Homo sapiens: one gene and its partners. The protein of the gene in region 1 purifies or fractionates together with the protein of each later gene. This does not show direct contact. Each region holds a gene or a part of one and is shown in the gene's direction. Other genes may lie near its edges. The genes, in order: LANCL1, UNC45A, STK38L, C2orf76, NRBP2 and OCIAD1.

Region 1 (3,500 bases):
AATAATGTGGCATTTAGATCAGTCCTAAATCCTCTGCAAAAAGACTTGATCTAGAGGCATGCTGTAGTTTGGAATCTAGATTCCAGGTCTCTTAACTTGTTAGTATCCTTTTTCTATTGAAAATACCACCTATCTCTTCTCTAAATGTAATAACGAAAGTCATGCTTGGTTTGTCCAGTGCATCTCTTTGTGACTTTTAAAGCTTGTTTTATATATTGAAACCATGAGAAACTTCTCTTACACTCACATTCATAGGCATTGACTTAGGAAAATTATTTATATGTATGTAGATAGCAATTAATATTGAAAAACAATATATACAAAATGCCGAGCACAGTGGCTCATGCCTGTTATCCCAGCACTTTGGGAGGCCAAGGTGGGCGGATCATCTGAGGTCAGGAATTCAAAACCAGCCTGGCCAACATGGTGAAACCCCGTCTTTACTAAAAACACAAAAATTAGCCAGGCGTGGTGACAGGCATCTGTAATCCCAAGTACTTGGGAGGCTGAGACAGGACAATCACTTGAACCCGGGAGGTGGAGGTTGCAGGGAGCCAAGATCGCACCATTGCACTTCAGCCTGGGTGACAAGAGTGAAACTCCATCTCAAAAAAAAAAAAAAAAAAGAAAGAAAAACCATATATACAAAAGGCCCTAAGAGTTAACTGATAGCAATTTTACTTTGTCCCATTGTTTAAAATTTTTAAATGAAATCACAAAAGCTTAAAATAAAGGCATCCAATAGGTGGAAAAATTGGATGAAATCCAAAACCTCTTAATGACCTTCCATTTCCCCTTAGCCATGCTTTTTTTCTGGTTTAAATATACTGAGACCTAGGAAGGTTTATTTGCTTCAGCAGAACTAATAATTTCCTTCTCATTTTTAGCCCAGCCTTCAAGTGAGCCAAGGGAAGTTACATAGTTTGGTCAAGCCCAGTGTAGACTACGTCTGCCAGCTGAAATTCCCTTCTGGCAATTACCCTCCATGTATAGGTGATAATCGAGATCTGCTTGTCCATTGGTGCCATGGCGCCCCTGGGGTAATCTACATGCTCATCCAGGCCTATAAGGTACTGTGTGTATTTTTGAAATAAATTTTTTTAAATAACCAAAAATTTATAATTTAAAATTAGTTTTATCCTAATCCATAAAGGAACAATAAATAAATCTCTTGTGGGACCTAAGATCACTTTACTAAATGAATTATAATTCATTCTCACCATCTATCTGTACCATAGCAGCCATTGTTTCATATCCTACTTTTAACAACACTTAGGTTGCAATGAGATATTGTTTATGATCCAGCATATTATCTAGCAATTCCACTCCTAGGTGTGTACTCGAAAGAACCAAAACCAAGCATTCATAACGGCATTATTTATAATTGCCACAGGTGAAAATAATCCAAGTATTCATCAACAGATGAATTGATAAAATGTCATATATACAATGGAACATATCACAATGCAATGGATTATTATTCTGCTATTAAAAGAATGACTTTCTGATACATATTACAACATGGATGAACCTTGAAAACATGCTAAGTGAAATAAATAGATATAAAAGGACAAATATTGTATGATTCCATTGTAGTGCATAAATAACACTAATAGAAAGCATGCCTTCACAGAACTGCAATCAACGCAGATTTTTAGTTGAGAAAAAAAAAGATATCTATGACCATTGGTGCCAAATCAACAAATTACAACTCTGCAGACTATCGCTGGGCGCTGGCATCTCATAAATAAGCTTTTAGTGTATCATATTCTACATTTCAGAGAATTAGATATGTTAATAATAGAAAAACTTTTTAAACTGCCTTATCCTACTTTTAAGAACACTTAGGTTGCAATGAGATATTAAAAATATCTACTCAGAATATTTCCTAAGTCTTTGATGAAGATATAGGAGGCAGTAAAAGATTGTAAAGGTCTATCTCTATTTTTCTGACTGCATATTTAATAAAGAACAGTTGTTCTTCTCCAGTGTGTAAAGAAACTTCCTAATAGTGAAGAGGGCATCAGAGTTACAAAGAAGATAGCATGTGTTCTTTGGAAAGTCACTCATGATAAGAGCAAGTTGCAAGTTAAATAATGCTGCTTCCTCAGTAACACCCACATAAACATACACACATGTGCAGAAAACTTAGACTGTACATGCCAAAGTCATGCACAGTTTTTTTTAAAGCCAAACTAGTCGATTTTAGTAATTGTCACTAGCAACATAACACATCCCTCTGTCACTAAATCCTTTACCCTTTCTTGCCAAGCCATCTCCCTCTTTCCTTCTTATCTATCAGGAAGGAATATCAATGGAACTTTCTTTTATATCCCGTATAATAAAATGTGTCCTTTGCCTCTGCAGGTATTCAGAGAGGAAAAGTATCTCTGTGATGCCTATCAGTGTGCTGATGTGATCTGGCAATATGGGTTGCTGAAGAAGGGATATGGGCTGTGCCACGGTTCTGCAGGGAATGCCTATGCCTTCCTGACACTCTACAACCTCACACAGGACATGAAGTACCTGTATAGGGCCTGTAAGGTAGGAGTCAGAACCACCAAATAGAAAGCAGCTCGGTGGCTCACACCTGTAAATCTCAGCACTTTGGGAGGCTGAGGCAGGCGGATCACCTGAGGTCAGGAGTTCGAGACCAGCCTGGCTAACATGGTCTACTAAAATGACAAAAAATTAGCCAGGTGTGGTGGCAGGCGCCTATAATCCCAGCTACTTTGGAGGCTGAGGCACAAGAATCACTTGAACCCGGGAGGCAGAGGTTGCAGTGAGCCAAGATCACACCATTGTACTCCAGCCTGGGTGACAAGAGTGAAACTCCATCTCAAAAAAAAAAAAAAAAAAAAAAAAAGCAGGTCTCCCAGGAGGTTGTAGAAAGAGTTCTAGTTCATCTGATTTAATTCATTTATCCCTAAAACCATAGGTCTTGGATAACAAATACAGTTATTTAAGGAAAACCTTGAAAAGCCTTTCAATTAAATTAGCATTCCTTTAAAGGGACATAATTCTACTCAACAGCATTAATGGGAGAAAAAAATAAAGATGTAGGGTGATTTTGTGCCTTTCTTCTTGAATAACCTTGTAGATACGTGACTCAGACAGCTCATTAAATTCCTCCCATGCTGTGTACTCTTTCAAACCATCCTTTTCTCTGCATTAATCTCCTTTCTCTGATGTGAAGGTAGTGTTTGATTTTTCAGAGTAATTTGTATAGACAACCTCTTAACTTTTGGGGTTGTCTCTGGAAGAAATCACTATACTAATTTAACTTGGTCTCATTTTCAGTTTGCTGAATGGTGCTTAGAGTATGGAGAACATGGATGCAGAACACCAGACACCCCTTTCTCTCTCTTTGAAGGTATTTTGTACACTTTATTTATTTGCCCTATAATATCAGCATCTACTTCTCTGCTTGGTAATTAATGTATTTAAGTTTTAGCAAAAAATTTTATAATTATTCTTAAACTACTTTTTTATTTCCTAAT
Region 2 (3,500 bases), on another chromosome or scaffold:
GCACCCCAAGGTGAGGGGCCGCCAGAGGGGCTAGAGGGTTCCCCACCATGGGGACAGCTAACCCAGGGCATCCACAGCAGAACAACCTCCCTTTTTTTTTTTTTTTTTTTTTGAGATGGAGTCTCACTGTCTCCCAGGCTGGAGTGCAGTGATGCGATCTCGGCTCACTGCAAGCTCCGCCTCCCGGGTTCATGCCATTCTCCTGCCTCAGCCTCCCGAGTAGCTGGGACTACAGGTGCCCGCCACCATGCCTGGCTAATTTTTTGTATTTTTAGTGGAGACAGTGTTTCACCGTGTTAGCCAGGATGATCTCGATCTCCTGACCTCGTGATCCGCCTGCCTCAGCCTCCCAAAGTGCTGGGATTACAGGTGTGAGCCACCGTGCCCAGCCAACAGCCTCCCTTTTAAGCCAGTTTGTTTCCTTTTGTCTGGCTGTTTTATTTCCCAGTTCCTCAATTACTGCTGTGAGAAGGGTCCCCCTTTCTCTGTGAGTCAGCCTAGGCCCCTCTCCTAAGCTGCCTCCTCCCCCAGGACAAGCCAAGCTTCGTGCGGGCTCGGGTGAAGAAGCTGCTGGCAGCGGGTGTGGTGTCGGCCATGGTGTGCATGGTGAAGACGGAGAGCCCTGTGCTGACCAGTTCCTGCAGAGAGCTGCTCTCCAGGTGAGCCAGCCTTGGTAGGAGCCAACCTTTCCCAACTCCTGAGCCTCAGGGCTGCAGATGTGGCTCCAGAGGGTGCAGGTTCCAGTGCTGTGGGCCTCTTAGAGCGACGGGGGCTGCCTGCGTGGCTGCCGTCTTTGCTGAGCCTAGGAGTGCAGCGTCTGCCTGCCAGAGTCCCAGAGCTGCCTGCCCACCACCGCCTTCTCCCCACAGGGTCTTCTTGGCTTTAGTGGAAGAGGTAGAGGACCGAGGCACTGTGGTTGCCCAGGGAGGCGGCAGGGTAAGCTGGTTTACACACCCCTTCCTGATGGCTGAGCCATCAGCCTATAAAACATGACTCAGCAGCTGCCACGCCAGAGCTGGGTGTTAGATATGGAACAGAAAAACATTAATGGCCAGAGGAACACCGTCCCGCTGAGAGAGTGACGCGGAAGCAGGCAAGCTCCTTGGCCCCTCCACACTGGTGCCTGTGAAGGTCCTAGGCTCTACTGTTCCTTTGTCTCATTTACCCCCATGGCCCTGGTGCTCAGCACAATCCATGTCCAGCCCTTATTAGGTGTTTCAGGAAGTGTTTGGATGCAGAGGGTCTGCACAGGGAGTCAAGCCTGGGGAGAGGGAGGAAGGTGAGGGTGGCACGGTCAGGGCTGGGGAGCCCGATGGTCGGGGTCTTACTCCCAGGGATGTCCTGAGCAGTGACGGGCTTGTTCCTACAGGCGCTGATCCCGCTGGCCCTGGAAGGCACGGACGTGGGGCAGACAAAGGCAGCCCAGGCCCTTGCCAAGCTCACCATCACCTCCAACCCGGAGATGACCTTCCCTGGCGAGCGGGTACGTGTCTTCCTGCCCCGGCCTTTCCACTCCCTCTGTCCCTGATGGCCTGTGGGCTGGGCTGTAGCTCCCCTTTGGGACCAGCAGGAAGTTTCAGCTTTGTCAAGGCCTGGGGCAGGGAGGACAGCCTGAGACAGCAGTACTCTCTTGGGGGTGGGCTTCTCCCTGCAGGGTTGGTGGGGCTTGTGGGGGCTGCGGCAAGTACCCCTGACAGGTGGGGTGCACATTGCAGATCTATGAGGTGGTCCGGCCCCTCGTCTCCCTGTTGCACCTCAACTGCTCAGGCCTGCAGAACTTCGAGGCGCTCATGGCCCTAACAAACCTGGCTGGGATCAGCGAGAGGCTCCGGTAAGGTCCCTTGGGATTGCGGGGCCTGGACCAGGCATCGGGATTCGGAATATCCCCCACAGCAGTTTACACATTGGGAAACACTCCTTGGTCATGGGCTTCTGTGAGCCTCACAGTGACTGCTCCGCATCATTAGAGAGGAGGCGACAGGCCAAGAGGCAGCACGGCACGGCAGACTCTAGAGTCAGACTGCCTCGCTTCCCTGATTGCAAATGGGCAACCTCAAGCAAGTTACTTAACTGCTCTGTCTCAGTTTCTCCCTCTGTGAAATGGGATGATTATAGTACCTACCTCATGGCATAGTGATGAGGAGAATAAAATGAGAAAATACACCTAAAAGTACTTACTACATGGGTACCTGGCCCCTAGCATTGTGCCATATCAGTATATTTTAGTTTTTTTTTTTCTTTGAGACGGAGTCTTGCTCTGTCACCCAGCCTAGAGGGCAGTGGCATGATCTCAGCTCACCGCAACCTCTGCCTCCCAGGTTCAAGCGATTCTCCTGCCTCAGCCTCCTGAGTAGCTGGGATTATAGGCACGTGCTACCGCGCCTGGCTAATTTTTGTATTTTTGTAGAGATGGCGCTTTACCATGTTGGTCAGGCTGGTCTAGATCTCCTGACCTCGTGATCCGCCCACCTCAGCCTCCCAAAGTGCTGGGATTACAGGTGTGAGCCACTGCAGCTGGCCAGCATGTTTTAGTTTTATTACTAACTGTGACTTTGAACATATTACTCATTACTTAGCCCGTTTCCTATTCTGCAAAACAGTAGTGATGATGATCACACTTGCACCTTTAGTATAGGGCCATGGTGAGAATTAAGTAAGATGATCCAGGTGCCTGGTCAGGGTAAATACTCAAATGAGGCCGGGCGTGGTGGCTCACACCTGTAATCCTGGCAATTTGGGAGGATGAGGCAGGAGGATCACTGGAGCCCAGAAGTTCAGGCCAGCCTGAGCAGTGTAGCAATACCTCGTCCCTATTTAAAAAAGAAATTAAAGAGAATATCAGGAAGAATAGCTAATGCATGCTGGGCTTAATACCTGGGTGATGGGATGATCTGTGCGGTAAACCACAACGGCACATGGTTACCTGTGTAACAAACCTGCACGTCCTGCACATGTACCCCTGAACTTAACAGTTGGAAAAAAAATTTGCAAGGTGTGGTGGCGTGCACCTGTAGTCCCAGCTACTCGAGAGGCTGAGGCAGGAGGATCACTTGAGCCTGGGGGGGTCAAGGCTACAGCAGTGAGCTGTGATCATGCCACTTTACTCCAGCCTAGGTGACAGAGTGAGATCCTGCCTCAAAAAAACACAGAAACAAAAACCCTCAAATGTTAGGTGTTAGCCTCACCATCACGACCACCCTGGTCTTCTACATCCTAATTTTGAGCATTTCCCACAATCCTATGCTATTTCCTAGGCCTGGTTAGAAGGCTAAGAAGCACTGTAGTTCATACCTGGTGCAAGAGGGTCCTTGGACATTGCCAAGGGAAATCCTCAGCCCAGGACTTGATTGCATGAGGGTGTGGGTGCAGGGGTGGAGCAGATGTAGAAACTCTGATGATGCTGCCGGTGTTAGTCTGTTCTTGCATTGCTGTAAAGGAATACCTGAGACTGGGTAATTTATAAAGAAAAGAGATTTAATTGCTTCCTGGCTCTACAGGCT
Region 3 (3,500 bases), on another chromosome or scaffold:
AACTTTTAAAATTCCTTGAAAATAAAAGAATGTCTGCAGGTGCCTTTTTTAGTGGGATAATGTCCCACTAAACTCTAAAAGAATATATTTCGTTTCCAGGTGCACTTATTCTGATTTTTTTGCAGTTTGACATTTTCCTCAGCAGTTAATTCTAGAAGTTGAGTGGTAGATATTACTTCATTATCAGCTCTTTTGTGATTTGATTTCACATGGTCTCTGCCTTAAAACCATTAAAAGTCATGAAACTTCTGCTATGCAATAGCACTTTTATTTGTCCCAAGATGTGGTTAGAAATATACTGGGTAGATCATAAAATGCAAACTCAGGAAAGCTAGCTGGGCATGGTGGCTCATGCCTGTAATCCCAGTACTTTGGGAGGCCAAGGCAGGCAGATAGCTTGAAACCAGGAGTTTGAGACCAGCCTGGCCAACATGGCAAAACCCCATCTCTACTAAAAATACAAAAATTAGCTGGGTGTGGTGGTGCACACCTGTAATCTCAGCTACTTGGGTGGCTGAGGCATGAAAACTGTTTGAACCCAGGAGGCGGAGGTTGCAGTGAGCCATGATCACACCACTGCACTCCAACCCAGGCAACAGAGTGAGACTCTGTCTCCAAAAAAAAAAAAAAAAAAGTAAAAAAAGCAGGAAAGCTTTTACAAGGTATTCCACCTTTGAGGCATTTTCAATAATAATATATTTGACTATCCTTTATTTAGGTGACATGATGACATTGCTAATGAAGAAAGACACCTTGACAGAAGAGGAAACACAGTTCTACATTTCAGAGACTGTTCTGGCAATAGATGCGATCCACCAGTTGGGTTTCATCCATCGGGATATTAAGCCAGACAACCTTTTATTGGATGCCAAGGCATGTGAATAAACTGGTGAATTACTAGGCTGTTGATTATTTTTTAGAGCAGTAGGGCTGATTTTGTGAATGGAAATCAGCAACTGCAATTTAGAATATTGCTAAACAACATTATATGATAAGGTACTAGGAGAGGACTTGGGAATTAAATGACAACAGGGAATATGGCTCTCTTTTTATCTCCCTCCATTTTCTACTTTTAAAAATCATCATCAGATACTTAAAATTTTACATTTTACGTGTATAAATCCCAAGCTAAGAATTTTTATTATAATTGCCATTTAATAGAGGAGTTTATAACAAGGCTTTTTGTTTTCAAAGTTAATATGATCTAATTTTACTGGATTTTTTTTTAGGGTCATGTAAAATTATCTGATTTTGGTTTATGTACGGGATTAAAGAAAGCTCACAGGACTGAATTTTATAGAAATCTCACACACAACCCACCAAGTGACTTCTGTAAGTTTGGTTGTTGTTTTTCTTCTTTCCCCTGGTTAAGATACTGTAGAGAACAGAAGGTTCTTTCCCTTTCCCCACTCCTTAATCCACTGTGTTTTAGATGTATATGTATTTTCTTTTTGTGGAGAGCATTTTTCCCTCGTGATTACAATTCCATATTGTTGAAATTAGCATTTCAGAACATGAACTCAAAGAGGAAAGCAGAAACTTGGAAGAAGAACAGGAGACAACTGGTGAGTCAACCAGTTTTTAAGAGAATTTTATGCCTTGGTTCTAAAATCTTACCTGGTTTTAACTTGATTATTTTTATCTTTATAATAATTAGTATTTACTTCATAACAATGGTAGCGCTTGCTCTGGGATCACACAGTTTTCTTAGTTTCTCTGTTAAGTTTCCTTGCCTGTAAAGCAAAGTGTTGGTTTTTACTTTGTAACTTTAGAGTAGTTTACTGAGCATACCTACAAGTAAGCTGTTTACTAGTAATTAGCACTTTAAATAAAACTCACTGAGGTGAATGCAATTGTAATGAATGCCTTGTGATTTCCATTTTTCCATTTTTCATAACTGTGTTACAAATCCTGATACAACAAATATCAATCAGCAAGTAAGGTGGTTGTGAGTTTCTAAAAACTTCTTTATAGACAAAGTAAACAGGAAGTTTGGGATGTAAACAGTGTTACAATAAAACAGATAAAATTTGAAAAAGCTGGCTTTGCCACAGATAAATTTAATTACTCCTTTAATATAGAATTACATTATTTTTAACCCCATACTATTTCCTTTCTATAACTGAGCAAATAGAAGAATTGCTTCCCCTTTCTCCTCTTTCCCTTTGTCCTGTTAACATGGTCCATCAACAGTCTACAGGTTAAGAATGTGCCTTAGGATTTTCTTTTTCTCATTTCTTATAAAATGCCTGGCACATACGGACACTCTATAAATACTTGTTCAACCAAATGATGAAAGGAAAACTAATTCAGCATTCCCTCAGGAAAGTAAACAGACTGAAAAATAATAGGCTAATACCCTCTAAAACCAAATAAAATGACCTTTGCATTATTGAGCTTATTATCTCATTAACCTAAGTAACTGCAAAAACTTGTAAAACATTTCAGTATTTTTAAATGTATTGAGTTACACATTAAGGAGAAAAACTTTGTTCTACTTTTAAAATGTGTCCATTTTAGATCAGGTTTTGCAATTGAGAATAATTGCAATATTCCCTATTTTTAAAGGGGAAAAACTGAATACTGCTCAAAATTATGGTGGGGGAATTCTGTACCCCCCTATTTACAAAATATTCATGGGTGATTACTCAGGTGTGTGTTTTATTATTCTCATGGCCAGTAGTTGCCAAGCCTTAGATCGAGTGTTTCCCAAGGGAGAAGTAGAGAGGACTCAGTGTTTGGGGCAGGAAATTTCTTTAGCACCTGGATCCCCTGCCCTGTAAATGCCAGTTATGTCACTGAGATGACAAAATCTGTGGTCCTACATTTTGCCATGGCCCCAAGAGTACTACCCCTGGTTGAGAATTACTGCCTTGTAGAAATCATTTTTGTAAGATTTTATATGAATTAAGAATTAAAAACTGCATAGCTTCCTAAAGGATAAGCAGTACCCTGGAATTACATTTATAATGAAAATACCTCATGCTTATTTTTGTAGTTTGTAGTTTACAAAACACATGCCGTTTATTGTTTCATCTTCATATCAACTCTATTAGGGCAGGTATTATTATTCTAGTTTTATGTAAGCAGAAGCTGAGCCTCAGAGAAATTGAATAATTTGCCCAAGAACACATTAGTAGTGAGTGGGGAAGCCAGGTCTTCTAGGTTCAACTTTTTCATTCTTTTTGAAATAGACTGAAGGCTATATATATAAATAACTTAACTGAGCTTCTTGTGGGGGCAGAAATGATATATTCTTATAAAATGCCTGGCACATATGGACACTCTATAAATATTTGTTCAACTAAGTGATGAAAGGAAAACTAATTCAGCATTCCCTCAGGAAAGTAAATAGACTGAAAAATAGTAGTCTATAACATATTATCTGACTCACTACCTACCACTAAGCCTTGCACATGATAAACATGCAAAATAAATACAAGTGAAAATTTAACTCCTCTATATATTGCTTTTTCCAGTAGTAAGCCATCCTCAGATAG
Region 4 (3,500 bases), about 91 Mb from region 1:
GGGTTGGTCTTGAACTCCTGAGCTCAAGTGATCCCTCTGCCTCGACCTCCCAGGATGCTGGGATTACAGGCCTAAGCCACTGTGCCTCGCCCTGGCAAGATATATTAATAAGTGAAAGCATTTCTTGCTCATTAGGTGGGAATAGTAGTTTCATATTAAGTTTCTTAGTATAAATGAAACCTCTAATTTCTGAAAGTAACCTAATCACCAGAAAATGAACTACGATTTCAGGAGAGCTTCCTAGTTGCTCTAGTAACTAGAGTTACTATAAGGCGAGGGTTAGGGTATCCACAAATGATGGATTACATTCATTCTGTATTTTCTTTCCGGTTACTTGGAATGTGACTCCTGTGGCAGGGCTTCAGCAGAGCTGGAGGAGACTAGTTTTTTTTTTTTGCCTTTTTTTTTTTTGAGACAGAGTCTTGCTCTGTCGCCCAGGCTGGAGTGTAGTGGTGCGATCTCGGCTCACTGCAAGCTCCGCCTCCCGGGTTCACGCCATTCTCCTGCCTCAGCCTCCCGAGTAGCTGGGACTATGGGTGCCCGCCACCACGCCCGGCTAATTTTTTGTATTTTGGGTAGAGACGGGGTTTCACTGTGTTAGCCAGGTTGGTCTCGATCTCCTGACCTCGTGATCCGCCCGTCTCGGCCTCCCAAAGTGCTGAGATTACAGGCGTGAGCCATGTCGCCTGGCCCAGGAGACTAGTTTTAAAGGGAAGAAGGGACTTTGGAAATGCTTCTGGATAGGATTGGGGAGGTATGGGTGGAGTTTTTTTGTGAAGGCTGAGGGAGGTGAGAGTTGGTGGGGGTGGGGTAAGAATGAAGCCTGGCTTTCCTCATAACTGGTGAGAGGAGGCCTGGCAGCTGGAGGTGTTAGCAAGTCCTGTGCCATTCCTACCCTCTCCTTCCTTTGGGTGTTCGTCTTCAGAGGAATTGTGGCAAGGCGGGCAGGAGAGAAGAGTAAACAGGTGTGGCATGCACATGTTTACCATTTTCTTCTTCCTCTTCTTTTTGCCTAGCCAACTTGGGCTGGGGGTGGTTAGGGCTGAGGTGAGCTGCAGAGATGGCTTGGGAGTGGAAGATTCTGATAGGGAAGTATCCTAGGCTGGCTGGAAGTAAGGAAGACAGGACTTCCTTTAGAATTGCTTCTCCATGAGTTGGTCATACACTGGTCAGGTGCTGCCTGCGCTCTGTTTAGAAGCATTCATGATTATGGGCAGGAATAATGAAAATATCTTGAGTTCAGTACTGAGTTCTTGTTCAACTTCATACTTTAATAAAAATGTGTTATATATTCTCTTCTAAATCTACATTGTCTTCTACATCTTTGCCTATTTAGCTCCTAGCTGCACATGACAAACCACCTGGAAAATGCCTTGAAACTAGATTGTTAGAGGTGAATTTTCTTAGTAAACTCTTCTGCCTGTCAACAAGAAAATTAGAAATACAGCTGACCCTTGAACAACACAGGGGTTAGGGGCACTGACCTTCCACACAGTCAAAAATCTGTGTGTAACTTTTGACTACCCTAAAACTTAACTATTAATAGCCTACTGTTGATTCGAAGTCTTACTGATAACAAACAGTTGATTAACACATTTTATATGTTATATGTATTATTTACTGTATTTTTAAAAGTAAACTAGAAAAGAATGTTACTAGAATCACAAGGAAGAGAAAATTATTTACTGTTCAGTAAGTGGAAGTAGATCATAAAGGTCTTCAGACTTGTCATCTTCACACTGAGTAGGCTGAGGAGGAAGAGGAAGGGTTGGTCTTTCTCAGGGATGGCAGAGGTGGAAAAAAATAGAAGTTGGACTCCTATTGTTCAAAACGCCACTGTATTAAAATCTGGTGACAAGGCTGCAGTGAGGTATAATCCTGCCACTACACTCCAGCCTAGGCAACAGGGAGAGACCCTGCCTCAAAGAAAAAAAGATCTGCTGACATGCTTTGGCTAATAATTCCTTCAAAGGGCAATGTTGTTCAAAAAAACACTATTTTGAGCTAACTATATAGATTGACGTGCGGTTATAAAAAATATAGTAGTCCCTCCTTATCCTCAGAGGCTAAATTCCAAGACCCCCCCAATGGAGGCCTGAACCCTATATATGTTTTTTCCTACATGGTTGTCTGTCAATATCTGTGGGGGATTGGTTCCATGACCTCCTATGGATGCCAAAAATCCATGGATGCTCAAGTCCCTTATATAAAATGATGTATTTGCATGTAACTTATGCACATTCTTCTGTATACTTTAAATAATCTCTAGGTTACTTATAATACTAGATACAATGTAAATGCTATATAAATAGTTGTGATACTGTATTTTACAATTTTTTTGTGTGTGTATCCGTATTTTTTTATCGTTTTCTTCCCAGGATATTTTCACCTGAAGTTGGTTGAGTCTGCAAAGGCAGAACCCACAGATATGGAGGGCTGACTGTACATACATATCTATAATAAAATTTGAGTTTTAAATTAGGCACAGTAAGAGAGTAACAAAATAATAATAAAATTGAACAGTTATCACCATATATTGTAATAAAAGTGTGAGTGTTTACTTCTGGAATTTTTCATTTAATATTTTTGGACAGTGGTTGGCCGTGGGTAACAAACCCACGAAACCCATTTTGGGTTCAAACCATCAAAAGTGGAACTGTAAGTGAGGACTACTGTAGCCTAGAGAGATCTCTTGTACATCTTACCTAGTTTCTCCCAGTGGTAACATCTTGCAAAACCATATAGAATACATAACACAATCAATACATTGACATTGATACATTTAAGTAAGGTAACAATATTTCCATCATCAAAGATTCCTAATACTGCCTTGTGGCCACAACCACTACCTAGCTCCTCCTTAGCCCCTGGCAACCACAACTTTCTTCTCTATTTCTATAATTTTATCATTTCAATAATGTTATATATCATGAAATTGTGGTATATAGCCTTTTTGTATTGTTTTTTCTTCACTCAGAATAATTCTGTGGTGATTCATCTAGCTTGTTGAGTGAATGATAGTTTTGTTCTTTTTTATCCCTGAGTACTATTCCATCATATAGATGAAAGAGTTTAACCATTCACTCTTTGAAGGCTATTGCTATTGTTTCCACTTTTTGGCTATTATGAATTAAGCTGCTGCCAATCACTTGTCTACAGGCATACCTCAGAGATATTGCAGGTTTGGTCACAGACCACTGACATAAAATGATGATCACAGCAAAATGAGTCACAGTTTTTTGGTTTTCCAGTGCATATACAAGTTATGTTTACACTATACGTATAGTCTGTTATAAAGTGTGCAATAGCATTATGTCAAACAGGTGTATATATCTTTTTTTTTTTTTTTTTTTTTTTGAGACAGAGTTTTGCTCTCGTTGCCCAGGCTGGAGTGCAATGGTGCAGTCTCAGCTCACTGCAACTTCTGCCTCCCAGGTTCAAGCGATTCTCCTGCCCCAGCCTCCTGAATAGCTGGGATTGCAGGCATGTGCCACCACACC
Region 5 (2,446 bases), on another chromosome or scaffold:
CCGTCTCCTGAGAGTGGGGCTGACCCTGCCTTGGGCGCCGAGGGGTTGGGGGGTGGGTGTGGGGGAGCCGTTAGGCCTCCCAGGTCCTTAGGATCAGGGTTGCCCCCAGAACCCCTTCCCATATCCTCCATTCTCCGCCCTGAGTTCCTACCCAGGCTGCCTGGCCGGGGCCACTGCCTCCTCAGCATGCAGGAGGCTGCCCTGTAGGGAACCCCAGCTCTGGGGCTTGGGGGTGAGGGTCAGCCCTGGACAGACCTCTGCCCAGGGAACTGCTCCATGGGGTCTGGGAGAGCAGCCATCCCCTGCTGGCACCATAGACCCACACAAGGAGCCTGCACAGCAAGCCAGCGGTGACACACCTGCAGGTGTCAGGCATGGCACTGGGCACAACAGGGACCTGGCAGGAGAAACAGACCACAGAGAGGTCTGGAGTTGAGGCTGTTGTCAGCAAAGCCCCTGGTCCCACACAGCTCTGCCCTAGAGCCACCTCTTTGACCCTTTACCCACCCTGAGACCAGAACTTGCAGCCCCTCTGCAGATCTCCTCTGGCCACTGCAGCCCCTCCAATGGGCTTTTTCTCTCATGCATTCCCTGGCCTGGAGGCGTCAGGGACCCCACATCCTCCCTGCTCCTCAGACTCACAGCCCCTCCATGTTACCTCCCGCACCTCCTCCCTGGGGCAGCTGCTCCCTGGGCCTCTGAGGATGTCAGCTCCTGGCTCCCTGCCTCTCTCCCACTCCACTCCTGGCTCAGTCTTAGAGATTTCTATGCCCTCATGGATTCTACCCCTGCCTTCCTGGCCTCTTGATTCTTGGCTTGCCTCTCCTCCAATTCCAAACTTAGTGAAATGGCCTTAAGCATTTTAAACTGTATGTATACATTAGCGCATTCATGCCTTTCTAAACGCATTTCAAATGTCAACCAGGAAGGCACACCACTGTATTAGTTTTATACTGCCGCTGTAAAATTTACCACAAACTTAGTGACTTAACACAAATTTATTGCAATTCTGTAGGCTGGAAGTCTGACTATGGGTCTCACTGGACTAGAATCAAGGCTGGCAGGCTGCCTTCCTTCCTGGAGGTTCTAGGGGAGACTCTGTCTCCTGCTCCTTCAGGCTGCTGGCAGAATCCACATCCTTTCGGTGGCAGGGCCAAGGTCCCCACTTTCTTGCTGACTGTAAACTAAGGCCACTTCCAGCTTGTAGAGGCTGCCTACATTCCTTGGCTCTTGGCCCCCTCCTCCATCTTCAGAGCTAGCAGGTTCAGTCTGTGTCACGAACCATTTCTCTGGTTCCCTGCAGACAGGAAAGGTTGTCCCTAAGGACTCATGAGATTAGGTTGGGCCCAGCCAGATAATACATGATAATCTCCCTCCTCAAGGTTTTTAATATTAAACACATCTGCAGGACACATTTTGCCATGTAAACTAACATTCACTGGTTCCAGGGATTAAGGAATGAACCTCTTTTGTTGGGGAAGGGTGGCATTCTGCTGACCACAGCACTCCAACCAAAAGCCAAAAACCAAAGCAAGACTTACTAACGCATATCAAATAAATTAAAGGTACAAAATCGTGAATCTCAGTTATCTTAAATATTCCAATACTATTTACAAAATTATTCAAATTCTCACGCCTTCCAACTCAAAATTAGCAATCTAAAGTAATTTCCATATCCTAGATGGAAACCCTCATGCTAAACTGTCTGATTATGCATGGTTCTAAATGGTTTCAGTGGCAAATACATAACATTGTACTACTGATTAAACTGAACTTAAAAGCATCAATACCACCATTGCTGCACTTAATCATGTCTCTGTTGAATTTTTCCTTTTAAATTTTATCTTTTCAGAATTATATATGTATTGTTTTTAAAGTAGAATAGTTTTTTTTTTGAGGCCAATAATAAATAATAAATGCAGGCTCCTACTCTGATCCTCTCCAAATTCAACTCTCTTAACTGTTTCTTCAGGCATTTGAAATCCATGTTTTTCAAAACCATGAGCATGCTTTTAGTCCTGTTTATTCGTTTTTCTACATTAGATGTCCCTGGCTGGCATCCTCTGGGAGGAGGGCGGTCACCTGCCTCAGTCTCCTGGCGGCATCATTCCAGTGTTACGGGCATCATAGCTGCATGGGTGTTATTACAGCTTCATTACCACACGTCTCAGGAGAGAACACGGTGTTCTAGGATGGCATTTCTTGCACAACTTTTTGTTTTCCCTGGAGTTAATAATTGCCTTTTTTTTGGTTTGCCTAGTTTTCTATATGTGTTTGTCATTGATTCATCTTTAGACTTTCCTGAAGAAGCATGAGCATCCTGTCACAGCTTAGGACTCATCACATAACTGACTGCTCAGTTTCTTCTTTTCCTGGAGCCCCCACCATACAAGCCCCCTGCCCAGGCTACTTGTTCTTGGACTTACAGCCCAGTGGTCAGCATGGG
Region 6 (3,500 bases), on another chromosome or scaffold:
ATTGCTTGAGCCTAGGAGGTGGAGATTGCAATAAGCCAAGACTGCGTCACTGCACTATAGCCTGGGTGACAGAGCAAGACCCTGTCTCAAAAAAATAAAAAAAATTATATGTATATATAATTTTGGAAATAAGCTATATGAAAGAAGTTATTTTAACACTTCTTTAAGATATAGGCAATGACTCATATTTCTTACTACAATATGATTTTCATTTACAGGCACTATTATCAAAAGTCAAAATATGACTCAAGTGTGAGTGGTCAATCATCTTTTGTGACATCCCCAGCAGCAGACAACATAGAAATGCTTCCTCATTATGAGCCAATTCCATTCAGTTCTTCTATGAATGAATCTGCTCCCACTGGTATTACTGATCATATTGTCCAAGGTAGAAACTTCTCTTGAAATGAATTTCAACATTTTATGGTCCAACGTATGTATAAACTTTATTTGATGACCTTTTCTGCTGGATATCACCTGTGTGTTCTACCATCAATCATCAACCTAAACTCAGCATGTTTGTTCATTTGTTTCTTCATTCATTCAACTTTTCTTGAGGACCAGTAGGTGTCAAGGACTCTGCTAGACGTGGAAGAAGATGAATAACACTTGGTTCTTGTCCCTGAAAAACTTTCAGTCTGTTAGAAGATATAGAAATACAAGGATGAATTACTAGTATGTCCCAGTAATTGAAAATACTAAGGCAAGCTTAGTGGAATAGTGAAGAAGAAATGATAAATCGTGTCTCAGGAAGTAGAGCTCCAGGAAAGGTATAAAAAGGTTACATTTGATAGGCTGGGTTTTAAAGGCTTTCAGCTTCCCTGTCTGTAATACAAGAAAGAACTGTTGTCAAGTGAGAAAATCCATGTGAAAATGCTTTGTGAAGTTTGTAAATACTAGCTTTGAAGATCACACATGTAAGTGCAACAACATCAATTTTGTATTAAGGCTTGGATTTGAATCATGATTGACATTTGCTAGCTATGTGACCTTGTAATACTACTACTACATTATAATAATGTAGTAATATTATTATAACTACTTTATGATCCTTTCAGTTTCTTGATCAGTTGAATGGAGATGATACTACCTCTCTTAATGAACTGTTGGAATTAGAGGAAATAATCAGAGGCAATGTCTGGCAAATAATAGACTCAAAAAACATTAGTTTCTTTCCTTCAGTCTAGTCGGCAGTAAAAGATGAGGAATTAGAAACGGGAAATACAGGTCTGTAATTCTTTATCTAAAATCCTGAAATTCAAAAAGGTTTAAGCCAAGTTTTTTTTTGTTTTTTGTTTTTTTTTTTTTTTTTGAGATGGAGTCTTGCTCTGTCGCCCAGTCTGGACTGTAGTGGTGCGATCTCGGCTCACTGCAACCTCCGCCCCCCCAGCTTCACGCCATTCTGCCTCAGTCTCCTGAGTAGCTGGGACTGCAGGTGCCCGCCACCACGCTCGGCTAATTTTTTGTATTTTTAGTAGAGATGGGGTTTCACTGTGTTGGCCAGGATGGTCTTGATCTCCTGACCTCGTGATCCGCCCGCCTCGGCCTCCCAAAGTGCTGGGATTACAGGTGTGAGCCACTGCCCCCGGCCTGTTTTTGTTTTTTAATAATTAAACTGGTAATAAAATCTGACCTGAATTCATTTAGCAGAATACCCTGACCTAAATTCACATAAGTTATATAAACGTAGACTTTATTTACTTTGCCAGATAAGATTTTTCCTTTATTTCATTATAGAAATATTAATGTGTTTGCTTACTCATTCCTGTCCTAAACCTCTGAATGGATGGATATTAAGTAATATAAGGGGTATTTACTGTAGTATTTTTCTAAAACCTCAGAAACTTTGAATAGTGAAACATACCTGACCCCAAGGTTTGGATAAGGGATTATGGACCTTTGTAGAGTATACTCTTTAAATTTTAAAAGATTAGAGGGAAAGAAGTTAAAGGGAGGGGAGGGTATACAGTGGAAAGGGAGAAGTTGATTATAGGTCAGAGAAGGTTCTAGAGAATGCAGAAGGGGGTTCTAGGTAGGTCAGAGTAGCCGCTAGCCATATGTGGCTATTTAAATTAATTAAAGTTAAATGAAATTTAAAATTCAATTTCTCAATTGCTTTGGTAGCATTTCACTTGCTCAATAGTCACATGTGCTAGTGGCTACCGTGTTAGTGCCAATATAGAACATTTTCATCATTGCAGAAAGTTATGTTGGACAGCACTACTTAAGAGCAAAAGTCGGGGCAAAGGGGTGAGTATTAGCCTTGTATAAAGGAAGAGACAGGAAAGAATGGAAGTTCAGATGATTAAAGAATTTGGATGAAAGTTATTGAGAGCTTCTTAATCCTCAACTCTGATTTTTTTATTTTTTTCTTTAATGGTTGGAAGCAAAGGCATCAAATTAGTCAGAAAAGGAAGGAAGGGAATGGGCAGATTAGGAGAGAATGGCTAAAGTCACTATCTTATCTCCAAAGGCAGCTGTCCTTGTTCCTCACTATGTCTCATTTAACCAGTCTGAAGTTCAAATCCATTCTTCTTGTACAGTAGTCCCCCCTTATCCATGGGGGATAAGTTCGAAGACCCCTGTGGATGCCTGAAACCTCAGATATTACCAAATCCTTTATGTTCTATGTTTTTTTGATCTAGATGGCTACTAAGTTACTAACAGGCATGTAGTGTAGACAGTGTGGATATGCTGGACAAAGGGATGATTCAAGTCCTGGATGGACCAGAGCAGAACCTCACAAGATTTTATCACACTACTCAGAACAGGGTGTAATTTAAAATTTATGAACTGTTTATTTCTGGAATGTTCCATGTAATATTTTCAGACCATGGTTGACTGCAGGTAACTGAAACCCTGGAAAGCGAAACCACAGATAAGGGGGCACTACTGTATTCTAGACATGCACTAACTCTTTCCTTGTGATGACTTGCATCTTCCCCACCATTTGCATTAGGAAATTCTGTTATATAGTTTTTTTCCATACAAAAGCCAACAAACAAAAAGCCCTTTGGTATCTACCCACAGACTACTTAGCAAGGCCATGTCTTAATATTATTTTATGCCTTCCACAGCAGCCATCCATCCATCCACTGCTCTGCCTTCTGACCCCCTTCTCTAAATCAAAGTGGCTACTTTTTTACTGCTCTCCACATGGGCCAGCAGTGGCCTGCTTTTGCTTTGCCCCAGATGCTATCCTCCCCTACCAGGGCATCTTATTCTTTGGTTTAAGTCCTACTTTAGTTCTGCTTTCTTTTACCAGGAATTCAGAGAGTTATTAATCTTTTAAAATAGCAAGCACTCCTTCAGAGCTGTTAGGAGACTTAGAGTTTATTACAGTTAGATTTAAATCAGTGCCACTTTACATTTTTTTATTCCTTCCAGTTCTTTATAACCTTCCCAAAATAGTAAATCATGTTCTCTCCATAGTGTGGGAAATTCTCCCCAGTCTTCTTCTGTCTGATGTATATTTTCATTATTTGTTCCAGAATTTTATA

Evidence for each region.
Region 2: the proteins of LANCL1 (region 1) and UNC45A purify together in Homo sapiens (affinity purification with mass spectrometry, with the first as the bait; one large-scale study listed by BioGRID). This does not show direct contact.
Region 3: the proteins of LANCL1 (region 1) and STK38L purify together in Homo sapiens (pull-down; one large-scale study listed by IntAct). This does not show direct contact.
Region 4: the proteins of LANCL1 (region 1) and C2orf76 fractionate together in Homo sapiens (co-fractionation; one large-scale study listed by BioGRID). This does not show direct contact.
Region 5: the proteins of LANCL1 (region 1) and NRBP2 purify together in Homo sapiens (affinity purification with mass spectrometry; one large-scale study listed by BioGRID and IntAct). This does not show direct contact.
Region 6: the proteins of LANCL1 (region 1) and OCIAD1 purify together in Homo sapiens (affinity purification with mass spectrometry, with the first as the bait; one large-scale study listed by BioGRID). This does not show direct contact.

Annotation. Positions count from the first base shown.
Region 1 is NC_000002.12:210,435,260-210,438,759, reverse strand, and holds part of LANCL1 (glutathione S-transferase LANCL1), read left to right. Parts: intron 1-887; coding exon 888-1,070; intron 1,071-2,367; coding exon 2,368-2,544; intron 2,545-3,300; coding exon 3,301-3,373; intron 3,374-3,500. UniProt on the Homo sapiens protein: Functions as a glutathione transferase. Catalyzes conjugation of the glutathione (GSH) to artificial substrates 1-chloro-2,4-dinitrobenzene (CDNB) and p-nitrophenyl acetate.
Region 2 is NC_000015.10:90,948,785-90,952,284, forward strand, and holds part of UNC45A (protein unc-45 homolog A), read left to right. Parts: coding exon 1-10; intron 11-531; coding exon 532-659; intron 660-869; coding exon 870-936; intron 937-1,369; coding exon 1,370-1,483; intron 1,484-1,715; coding exon 1,716-1,831; intron 1,832-3,453; exon of another isoform or gene 3,454-3,500.
Region 3 is NC_000012.12:27,313,786-27,317,285, forward strand, and holds part of STK38L (serine/threonine-protein kinase 38-like), read left to right. Parts: intron 1-718; coding exon 719-873; intron 874-1,229; coding exon 1,230-1,332; intron 1,333-1,503; coding exon 1,504-1,565; intron 1,566-3,500. UniProt on the Homo sapiens protein: Involved in the regulation of structural processes in differentiating and mature neuronal cells.
Region 4 is NC_000002.12:119,360,335-119,363,834, reverse strand, and holds part of C2orf76 (UPF0538 protein C2orf76), read left to right. Parts: intron 1-3,500.
Region 5 is NC_000008.11:143,833,083-143,835,528, reverse strand, and holds the end of NRBP2 (nuclear receptor-binding protein 2), read left to right. Parts: coding exon of another isoform or gene 1-91; 3' UTR 92-1,946; downstream 1,947-2,446. UniProt on the Homo sapiens protein: May regulate apoptosis of neural progenitor cells during their differentiation.
Region 6 is NC_000004.12:48,851,588-48,855,087, forward strand, and holds part of OCIAD1 (OCIA domain-containing protein 1), read left to right. Parts: intron 1-218; coding exon 219-388; coding exon of another isoform or gene 389-405; exon of another isoform or gene 406-638; intron 639-3,500. UniProt on the Homo sapiens protein: Maintains stem cell potency. Increases STAT3 phosphorylation and controls ERK phosphorylation. May act as a scaffold, increasing STAT3 recruitment onto endosomes. Involved in integrin-mediated cancer cell adhesion and colony formation in ovarian cancer.